2 separate regions of the Homo sapiens genome follow, and region 2 is linked to region 1. Evidence: fine-mapped expression QTL. A gene starts in region 1. The other region holds a variant in brackets. All regions are shown on one strand. Distances are from middle to middle.

Region 1 (5,235 bases):
GGCCTACCAGGAGTCCTCCATTAGCATAAATGTACTTGGGGGCCTATCAGGAGTCCTCCATTAGCATAAATGTACTTGGGGGCCTATCAGGAGTCCTCCATTAGCATAAATGTACTTGGGGGTCTACCAGGAGTCCTCCATTAGCATAAATGTACTTGGGGGCCTATCAGGAGTCCTCCATTAGCATAAATGTACTTGGGGGCCTATCAGGAGTCCTCCATTAGCATAAATGTACTTGGGGGCCTACCAGGAGTCCTCCATTAGCATAAATGTACTTGGGGGCCTATCAGGAGTCCTCCATTAGCATAAATGTACTTGGGGGCCTATCAGGAGTCCTCCATTAGCATAAATGTACTTGGGGGCCTATCAGGAGTCCTCCATTAGCATAAATGTACTTGGGGGCCTACCAGGAGTCCTCCATTAGCATAAATGTACTTGGGGGCCTATCAGGAGTCCTCCATTAGCATAAATGTACTTGGGGGCCTATCAGGAGTCCTCCATTAGCATAAATGTACTTGGGGGCCTATCAGGAGTCCTCCATTAGCATAAACACAGGTGTGGTTGCAGGGGGCTTATTAAGAGTTGCAGAAGACACTCCTTCTACCCCTGTCACTCAGGAAATTCCAAGGGTTTTAGGGGCTCTGGTACCAGGAGCTGGGGATAAAGATTAAACATATATTTCTTATTATATCACAAGATCACAGGAAGACACATGCATTACATCACACTCTGACACACACAGGGTCATACACAATCATACCTGCCCAGACACACACAGACATGCAGAGACACCCAAACCCATATCCAGGGACACACAGTCGCCCTCCTAACCCCCATGCAAGGAGGCAGGTGGGAAGCCATCACCTGCAGCCACACTCACACATGCACACAGGGTCCCGGGCACACGTAGCTACACACACACCCAGCCCCACACGTAGCTCCCTGTGTGAAGAGGTGCACAGAGACGCACAAGGTCACACATGCCACCTGCTCCACACAGGCCGGCCATTACTGGGACACACCCACAGGGGATGGCTGGACACATGTGCAGTCACACTCGGTGGATAGAGCTCCAGCATAGCCAAAGCCCACATGTGCAGCGTCTCCATCATGTGCAGATGCACACACTTCAGACAGCACGGCACTCTACAGGCTCGCACAGCCAGGTCACCCATCATTGTGCTGGCAGGCACACGGGCCGAGCCAGCCTACACGGCGGCACACCCAGACATGCACACGTGGGGTCACACACCTCACATCCAGGAGAACTTTCAGACTTGCCCAAAGGCAGCCACACGTGTATGTGACATGCTGTGATATGCAGACACCGCTTCACATGAACGAGCACATAACACACCGATAAAGTGTTACATGCCTTTACCTGCAGTCACCTGCCTGGGCTGGCACCACTGAGTGAGCAGGTGCAGACACAGTGACACTCGGGGACGGGCTCACAGGCAGTCACACACCTGCAAGGCCTGGCACCGCCGAGTGAGCAGGTACAGACACAGTGATGGGCTGGCACCGCCAAGTGAGCAGGGGCAGACGCTGTGACACTCAGGGACGGGCTCACAGGCAGTCACACACCTGCACCTGCTGGTACCGTCGAGTGAGCAGGTGCAGACGCTGTGACACTCAGGGACAGGCTCACAGCCAGTCACACACCTGCACGGCCTGGCACCGCCAAGTGAGCAGGTACAGACACAGTGACGGGCTGGCACCGCCGAGTAAGCAGGTGCAGATGCAGTGACAGGCTCACAGGCAGTCACACACCTGCACCTGCTGGTACCGTCGAGTGACCAGGTGCAGACGCTGTGTTACTCAGGGACGGGCTCACAGGCAGTCACACACCTATACGGGCTGACACCGCTAAGTGAACAGGTGCAGACACAATGGCACTCGGGGACGGGCTCACACGCGGTCACACACCTGCAGGAACACGCGCACACTACACACCGTTGCTCTCGCCTCCCGGTATCACCTTCGAACGCGCTGGCCGGCCCCCTCCTAGCCTGGTGCAGTCGGCTCCGCTTCTACTCAGTCTCGGGTCCTCCTGGGCCAACGCAGACCCTGGTGCCTCCTTCCTTAGACGAGCTAAGGTCAAGACTTCTGCTGCTGCGGAGGAGCCCGCGCACCAGGCCGGGGTGGACTGCGCCTGCGCATCGGGCCCGCCTGGTTCTTAGGAACTACGACTCCCAGGGGGCGCTGCGCGCTCGCCGGCACCGCGACTAAAGCTTGCAAAGCCTGGGTCATCGAAACTACAACTCCCAGAAGGCTAAGCGTCTGCACACGCTAGGTCCGCAGGGCGCTGACCCCTGGGGGCCCGAGGAGCGCCGGGCTGCTGCCCCGAGCCCCGCCCACTACAGCCTCAGTGCATGGCGGTGGGCGCTTCCAGTAACTCAGGGGTGGGACTTTTTTCTTGCTCAGGGGATGAGGCCGAGCCCACAGGCTTAGAAAGAAGGAACTTGAGTCCGGGCACCTGTCATCCCAGCGCTTAGGGAGGCCGAGGCGGGTGGATCACCTGAGGTCAGGAGTTCGAGACCAGCCTGGCCAATATGGCGAAACCCCCGTCTCTACTAAAAATACAAAAATTAGCCGAGCATGGTGGCATGCACTTCCAGCTACTTGGAAGGCTGAGGCGGGAGAATGGCTTGAACCTGGGAGGCGAGGGTTGCAGTGAGCTGAGATCGCACCACTGCACTCCAGCCTGGGTGACAGAGCGAGACTTCGTCTCAAAAAAAAAGAAGAAGAAAGAAGGAAGCTGAGGTTCAGACAGGCTAAGTCCCTACTGCAGGCTGCGGAATCTAAAAAGGTAGGTGCCAGGGTTTGCAACCCACACTTTTATTTTGGTCTCAGGTAGCTGATGTCATTCCAGTCTATGGCAAAGAAGGTGGCAAATCCATTAACATAGATGAAGAATTTCATTTTACTTTTTAGTTTTATTTATTTATTTATTTTTATTATGTATCATGCTTTTAATACAAACTTTAAAAAATCTGGAACAATAGAAACTGTACAGATTTGATCAATCTTTTTGTTTTGTTTTTAAACTAAAATCTCTAAACACACCAATGTCCTATTCCAAAATATTGCACAACATTCTGAATACAAAACCCTTGATTGTATTCCTCCTTCACTGAAGAAAAAACTTCATGACCCTGCTCCCCGGGCTCCTCTCCAGGCTTGCGTCAATGCCCCCTTCCCATCCCTAGGGAGAAAACTAGAGAATCTATAACTCACTGCATTGAGAAAAAGACATCATTCTGGACTAACAGTTTCCATTCTTCAGAAGATAATCCACCTTTTGATTTGTTCCTGGGAAACAGGGATAGATAGAGGATGGGGAAAGGGGAGAAAAGGTTTTATTTCTCCTCTTTTTTTTTTAAAGTTTGTTTTTCCTGAAAAAATATGTTTCTCTCATCTTTTTAAGAAAAAATCTTGAAAAGAAAAAAATTGTTTTTACGTTAGAAATATACATATATTATATATACCTCTTACATTTTACAAATGTAGCAAATTATTCAATACAAACGGACACCAAAAAATGTAAAAAATAAAAAAAAGTTTTCCTAAGAACCAGGTAAATTAGTGCAGATTTCTGTTTTTGTTTTCTTAAAAAAAATAAAATTGAAGCAAAAGTGCCTAGATTTGAGACAAGACAGACTGAACTGGGCCCAAGAGCCCAGCACTGGAGTCATGCTCCTGAACACACATTTTTCTTCGTATTTCAAAAGACACAAAGGGGTTGGTCTCCCCCCCTCTCCCTACATGTGAGAAACAAGCAGACCTGGTGTGGGTGGGTGCCTGTGTGTGTGGATGGGAGGAGGGATAGAAGGGGATGTAAGGCAGCATCCAACCTTTCCCAGAGAGAAGCTATCTGCTGGGCCTGTCACCTGTGTGGGAGCCGAGGATGAGGGAAAGGGTGGCCCAGACTGGGCTGGCCCCTGAGAAGTCTAGGGGAACAGATGGTGCTGGGCTGAGAAGCCAGGACATTGCCTGCCGGGGGAGGTAGAGCTGGTGCCTACTGCAGGGAGAGGAGGCTGGCAGTGCCGGCCTGGGCTGGACCCACTGCCATAGCAGTTGCCTACTTGGGGTCCCTGGGTAGGATGGAGTGGGTGGGGTGCCAGGGGCTTTGGTGCTTTCTGGTGATGGGACCCTGATGCCAAGTGCCCACTTTGCAAAGATGAAAAAGTTCATGACCCTGCTCCCTTGGCTCCTGTCCATGCTTGCCTGGCCTCCTGGGGTTGGAGGAACAAGCTCTCTCCTGGCAGAGGCAGGAGAGAGTTTTATTTTTTAGAAACAGTTTCGCTTTGTTGCACAGGCTGGAGTGCAGTGGTACAATCACGGCTCACTGCATCCTCGACCTCCCCAACTCTAGTGATCCTCCCATCTTAGCCTCCTGAGTAGCTGAGATTGCAGGCATGTGCCACCACACTGGCTAACTTTTTTTTAACTTTTATTTTTTGTAGAGATGAGGTGTCGCTATGTTGCCCTGGCTAGTCTTGAACTCCAATCCTTCCACCTCGGCCTTAAATAATTTTAATAGTTGACATGCACATGGCATTTACTATTGGCCGGCATTATTTTAAGGTGCCTGCTCTGAAGGAATTCTGTTAGCCTTCCTAAATTATTCCCTTGGCCATTGGAAACATAGGCATGAGATCATTTTTAGATAATTGGAAAAGCAGAGAAATCTGTGAAGATAGAATGGGAAAAAAAATGCATTTCACTAAACCAACATGCCATTGATTGTGAGATTCCACATTACTTTATGTAGCCCCACGGCTGCCCTTAAACCATGACACATGCTTTATTTACAGTTCATATTTTACTTATTCGTAGACCTCAAGAGGCATTCTGTGCTTCCCTCTTCCTTCTGGAAGCTTCATGAGAAGGGACATTTTCCTCAAAGGATGGACAACAGAAACAACTCAAATATTCATTTCCTTTAAATATGGTTTTTAAGACAATTTTCTTTAGAAAGCCACATTTACCTGTTGGGGGTTGATTTATGCTCACCCCCCTCCCAAATATATGTTGGAATGCTAACCCCCTATTCCTCAGAATGTGACTTTATTTGGAGACAGGTTCTTTACAGAGGTAATAAAGTTAAAATGAGTAAATAGGGTGGGCCATAACCCAAAATGACAGCTGTCCTTATAAAAAGGGTGCATTTGCACGCAGAGACACGCATAGAGAGAACATGATATGTAGAGGCACAGGGAGAAGGCCGCC
Region 2 (5,235 bases), 37 kb before region 1:
GTAGATTTTCCATTTCCTTCGTGATACGTACTCATTTGCCCAATAAATCTTTTTCAAAGCATGAAAATTCATAGGGGGATCTTTTTGGCCCAAATTTCTTGTAAGAGATGCCTACAGGGAGGTAAATGTTCATTTATAGCTTATCACCTGTTTTACAGAGAGGTTGAGAGGTGGAAAGAAATGGAGGGAAGGAAGAGGTAGGAGTGAAGTTGGCATTTTTCATTGTTGATCCAATGTAGCACACAGACGTTGGTGTGAGCAGATGCATGTGGAAAGGAGGAGGAGAAATTTGGGTCAGGAAGGAACCTGAGCTATTTTTTTCTCTCAGTGGTGGGTGAGTAGCTGTTTTAAGGAAAAAGAAAGTGGAAAAAAGGAAATAAGAGAGTGAATGCCTAATATATAAATACTCAGAACTTCTGCACCCTCTGATAAGTAGGAACCCCAAGAAACAAGAAGCTTTGGGGGTGAACGGGGTGTCGTTCATTCAATAAACATCTGAGCACCTATTCTGTGCCAGGCACTGTTGCAGGGTCTGGGAACCGAGCAATGAACAAACCAAAGTCTTTTACCATATGGAACCACCACTCCTAATTTCTGGGCATGATCAGAGAATGGGATGAAATGGAGAGTGAAGGGGAGGCCGCCTCAACTTCAGTGGTCAGAGAGGGCCACTCTAAGAAGGTAACATTTGAGCAGAGACCCACTTGGCAAAGAGAAGACAGTTACATAGGTATCTAAGGAAGGCATTCTCCTTTCATCAAAGTGTTCACTGATGCTTTGCTTAGAAGAATTGACAACACCCAAGAGTCCATCCTTAGAAGACTGGCTGAATGTATCAGGATTCAACTGGGTGAGAAATGAGTTGAATATTTGAATATGGTAGGAGTTCTGAATTACAGAATTAAATGAAAACAAACAGAACAATCGATGACAGCATATATGTGTACTCTCATTTGTGTTTTCTTTAAGTGAGGGGGCTTCAGGGGCTTTCACTCAGCAGCTATTTACCTACTTTCACAGAAACATTTCAATAAGTTAGCAACCTATATAGAAGTAGTAGTGCTCTGCTAATTATCAGTTGTGTATATAAAGCGTATCAGTCAGTTTTGCTGTGTAACAAACCACTCCAAAACTTAGTGACTTAAAATAACAAGCATTATTAGCTCATGAATGTGGCCACAGGGGCTAAGTTAAACTGGATAGTTCTGGCCTCAGCTGACTTCATGTGTTCAACTGTGGTCAGCTGTGGGCTGCCTGGTCCAGAATAACCTTGTCCGAGATGACTCGCCTCTCCTCCTTGGGCATCTCATCCTCCAGCAAGCCAGCTCAAGCCAGTGCACATGACTGAGCAGGGATTTGAGAGGAAAAGAGAGCATAGAATTCTTTTGAGGTGTGTGTGTGTATGCATTGATCCTCAGCCTCACTTCTCCCATACATAGAATGAACCTTGTTATTATTACTCATTCCATAATAACAATGCCAGATGCCTATCAGCCGCAAACTATGAGATATGCACTGTTGTTATTGGATAAGTTGTGATAAGTAAATTTTTTTTTTTTTGAGACAGAGTTTTGCTGTTGATGCCCAGGCTGGAGTGCAATGGCACAATCTTGGCTCACTGCAACCTCTGTCTCCCGGGTTCAAGAGATTCTCCTGCCTCAGCCTCCCAAGTAGCTGGAATTACAGGCACCCACCACCATGCCAGCTTTTTTTTGTGTGTGTGTGTTTAGTAGAGACGGGGTTTTGCCATGTTGGCCAGGCTGCTCTCGAACTTCTGACCTTGGCTGATCCGCCCACCTCGGCCTCCCAAAGTGTTGGGATTACAGGCTTGAGCCACCGTGCCCGGCCAGTAAATAATATTTTATTGATGCTGAGTTGTTAGTTATTTACATTTTAATATTTCTCACATTGAAATATGTCTTACAATTGTTCATATCTTTGGCTTTTCTTCTTTTTTCCTTACAAAGTTCTTAACTTCTTTATTTTATAAGCAATACATCTGAAAGGAAAATCATCACATTCATGGCATATCATAGTCAGGAAGAAAAATTAGGTTGCATCCTGAGGTTGACCAAACATACCAGATTCACCCTGTTAAGTCCTGGTCCCCAAATAAAACATTGAGCACTTCCTGTAAGCCGGACTCCTTAGCAAAAAAAAAAAAAAAAAAAAAAAAAAAAAAATATATATATATATATATATAAAATGATTACCACATCCAGAAAGTTTGTGAACTCTCTTCAAATATCAGCATGGCAAAACTCA[C/CAT]ATATATATATATATAAAATATATATAATATATATTATATATTATATAAATAATATATATTATATAATATATAACATAAATATATATATAATATAATATAAATATAAATATCTATCTATCTATCTATCTGAGTTTTGCCATGCTGAGATTTGAAGAGAGTTCACAAACTTTCTGGATGTGGTAATCATTTAATATTATTACCGCTTTTTTTTTTTATCATGAAAGAACAAATGTAATGTTGGTAAGCCTGGTAATCTTGTGATTTTTTTTCTTTTAAATACCTTTTGTGTTTTTAACTTGAGAAGACTTTATAGACATATCTATGTGCCCACAGAAAATATCGACATTGTTTTATGTGTTGCTGGGTTTTCACGTCATTCATGTCAGACTGCATCTGTAGATTTGCAACTTGCTTCCCCCATCCTCCCATGAAATGATGTGTCTTGGAGACCTTTTCATATCCATCCACGATGATCTATTTTGTTCTGTAAAATGAGTATAATAACAACACTCAACCAACATGATCTTGGTGAGGACACATTAAGCTCTCAATAAATGTTACTTGATTTATAATGATTCTGTCTTTGGAATCATTTTTCTAGCGAGACTGCAGAAAAGCCCTGTGGGCTGGAAGTGGCTAGGAGAACCTGTTTCTCTAAGCAGACTTGACAGCTCGCTGCCCTTGTATGATTTACCCCATACACCCCCAAGTGATTGTATCCTTCTAGGTTTTAAATAACAAGGTGAGTTTTCCCATTTCAATCATACTTCTTCCCCTTGCAATCCCACCTTAAATAAATGGAAAATTTTTTAGTAGTAGTGAAACAAGAAGGTCTTTGGGGACATATCGCTCTGGGTTTAATCCTGGATATGCCATTTACAAGCTGACCTGCCCCAGGGTGTCCGAGGCTCCCAAATGATCACAGTTTGGAGATGGCCACGTACACTAGATACATCCACACAATGTGATTAATTCCCTGCAGTTGCCAAAAAGCATGAAATAGATTCCTCTCCTTGTGGGATGGTCCCTACTGATAGGATTCCCTGCTTGGTGCCACAGAACCCTGCCTTATGGGCCACAGCAGATGTACCAGAGGATAGAACAACAGGTCACTGGCCCATGAAGTGGTCTTATGGCAAAGTCTTACTCAACAGGGGTCTGTGATCTTGGATGTCTCGATCTGGCAGATCATAGACTTCATCCTGCCAACTGACGAGCACAGTTCAGTTCAGGTCACGTCACTCATTTTCCTTTTAATTTAATGAATTACCATCATTAAAACATTGAGATAGTTTACATTTACAAACACCGTTTTTCATTCATTCGACTGTTTCAAAACAACATTCATGGGCCATCTGGTATGTGCCAAGACACGTTCCAGGTTCTGGAGGCTCAGAGGTAAATTAGAAACACACAGCCCCTACCATCATGGGTCTGTACCATTTTAGAAACAAGGCAGACAGTAAGCAAAAAGAAATATTCATAAAGTAATGAGCTCCAGCTTATTTTGAGAAATTGAAATATCAAAACTCACTGGGCCAGCAACTCCATTAGAGGACATAATAGAAAGATAGTGAAGAGCCATATCACAGTGGTTCTAGGTAAACAAAGAGCTCAAAGTCAGAGCCTCAAAGCTCTCTGGCCCTTGAAAAGTTGTGAATATCATCCTATTAGGCATACAGGATATGCTTCAGGCATACTGGGTGTCACCTGCAATGTCCAGCACGTAGTGAGTGCTTTATGAATGTCTGTCTCTTGAGTGATTGTGGAAGCTGTGCCTTTTCTGGTGACCAGATCATTGGGAAGAACACTTATTCATCCATTCAACAATTCCAGAGAGATTTGATTTTGTGAAGGACTCACTCTTGCAGAGGGTGTACAATTCAAAACCCACATAATTCAAGACTAACCCTGACAAAAAGATGGTGGGTGTGTCTATTCACCAGCTAAAGCGACACTAAAATAACAGTCACAGTTTACAATGTATGTGATTGGTTGTATTTGGAAGCATGAGAAACTGTAGCCATGCTGCATTTCTGTAAATCTACAATAACATCCCTCTTGTGACCCCAGCTTGCAACATAAAAAATAGCGCTTTGCCGGCTGGGCGCCGTGGCTTACGCCTATAATCCCAGCACTTTGGGAGGCCGAGGCGGGCGCATCACGAGGTCAGGAGATCGAGAACATCCTGGCTAAGACGGTGAAAACCCGTCTTTACTAAAAATACAAAAAAGAAAAAAAAAATTAGCCGGGCGTGGTGGCGGGTGCCTGTAGTCCCAGCTACTCGGGAGGCTAAGGAAGGAGAATGGCGTGAACCCGCGAGGCGGAGTTTGCAGTGAGCCGAGATCGCGCCACTGCACTCCAGCCTGGGCGACTGAGCGAGACTCCATCTCAAAAAAAAAAAAAAAAAAAAAAAAAAAAAAAAAAAAACCTAGGGCTTTGCCAATAACTCGCATATATTTATATAGCCCTCTCCTCCCCACTCCACTGCTTCTCCCAACCCAGAATAACCAACAGCCTGAATCCGGGGCATACCTTTCTCTGAATTTCCTTTCTGTACTTTCCCCCTCTTCAGAGCTTTTTGGGAAACTTCATGTTAATAATTTCAATCCGGTTCAGCCAGGCCCTGCTGTCCTAAGAACAAAAGCTGTCACTTAAAAATGACTTTGCAGTTGTTGCCCTCATCTGTTTTCATCCCATGATCTCTACAGCCCAGAGATCTTTGTTTCCAGGAAACAGCAGGGCTTTCCCCAGGCGGATGGGTTCTTTGAAGGAGGGGGAAAAAAAAAAGTCTTCTCCAGCTATTCTGTGTAGAGCGTCAGCACCACCGAACGCTAATGCTTGAATGGTTTAGAACTGCGGACAGCTCACGCCAGACAGATTCAGCACCACGGACAGCCCCCAAGGCAGCTCGTGATGTGAATGGTTCAGCACCGCAGACAGCTCAAGCCTCGCCGGACAGCCCTGCT

Alleles and levels. Alleles are on the strand shown, and positions count from the first base shown. SD is a standard deviation of normalised expression in the study named.
In carriers of allele C in region 2, the expression in subcutaneous fat of the gene that starts at base 2,138 in region 1 tends to be lower than with CAT alone (large effect, 1.5 SD a copy in FUSION).

What was found.
Region 2: its variant is fine-mapped to the expression of ZNF835 in subcutaneous fat (FUSION, PIP 0.95).

What each region holds. Positions count from the first base shown.
Region 1 is chr19:56,669,620-56,674,854 of GRCh38, forward strand. ZNF835 (zinc finger protein 835) reads right to left here and starts at 2,138. Exons shown (of 2, transcript NM_001005850.3): 1 at 1,957-2,138. LOC105372473 (a long non-coding RNA gene) reads left to right here and starts at 2,360. Exons shown (of 4, transcript XR_936110.4): 1 at 2,360-2,812.
Region 2 is chr19:56,632,974-56,638,208 of GRCh38, forward strand. All of the region lies in intron 2 of ZNF71-SMIM17 (ZNF71-SMIM17 readthrough (NMD candidate)), which reads left to right. Among named protein-coding and RNA genes, the nearest start is that of SMIM17, 7.6 kb to the right of the region's middle. RefSeq lists silencers at 5,028-5,235, 5,120-5,235. The variant C/CAT (reference allele first, on the strand shown) is at 2,266.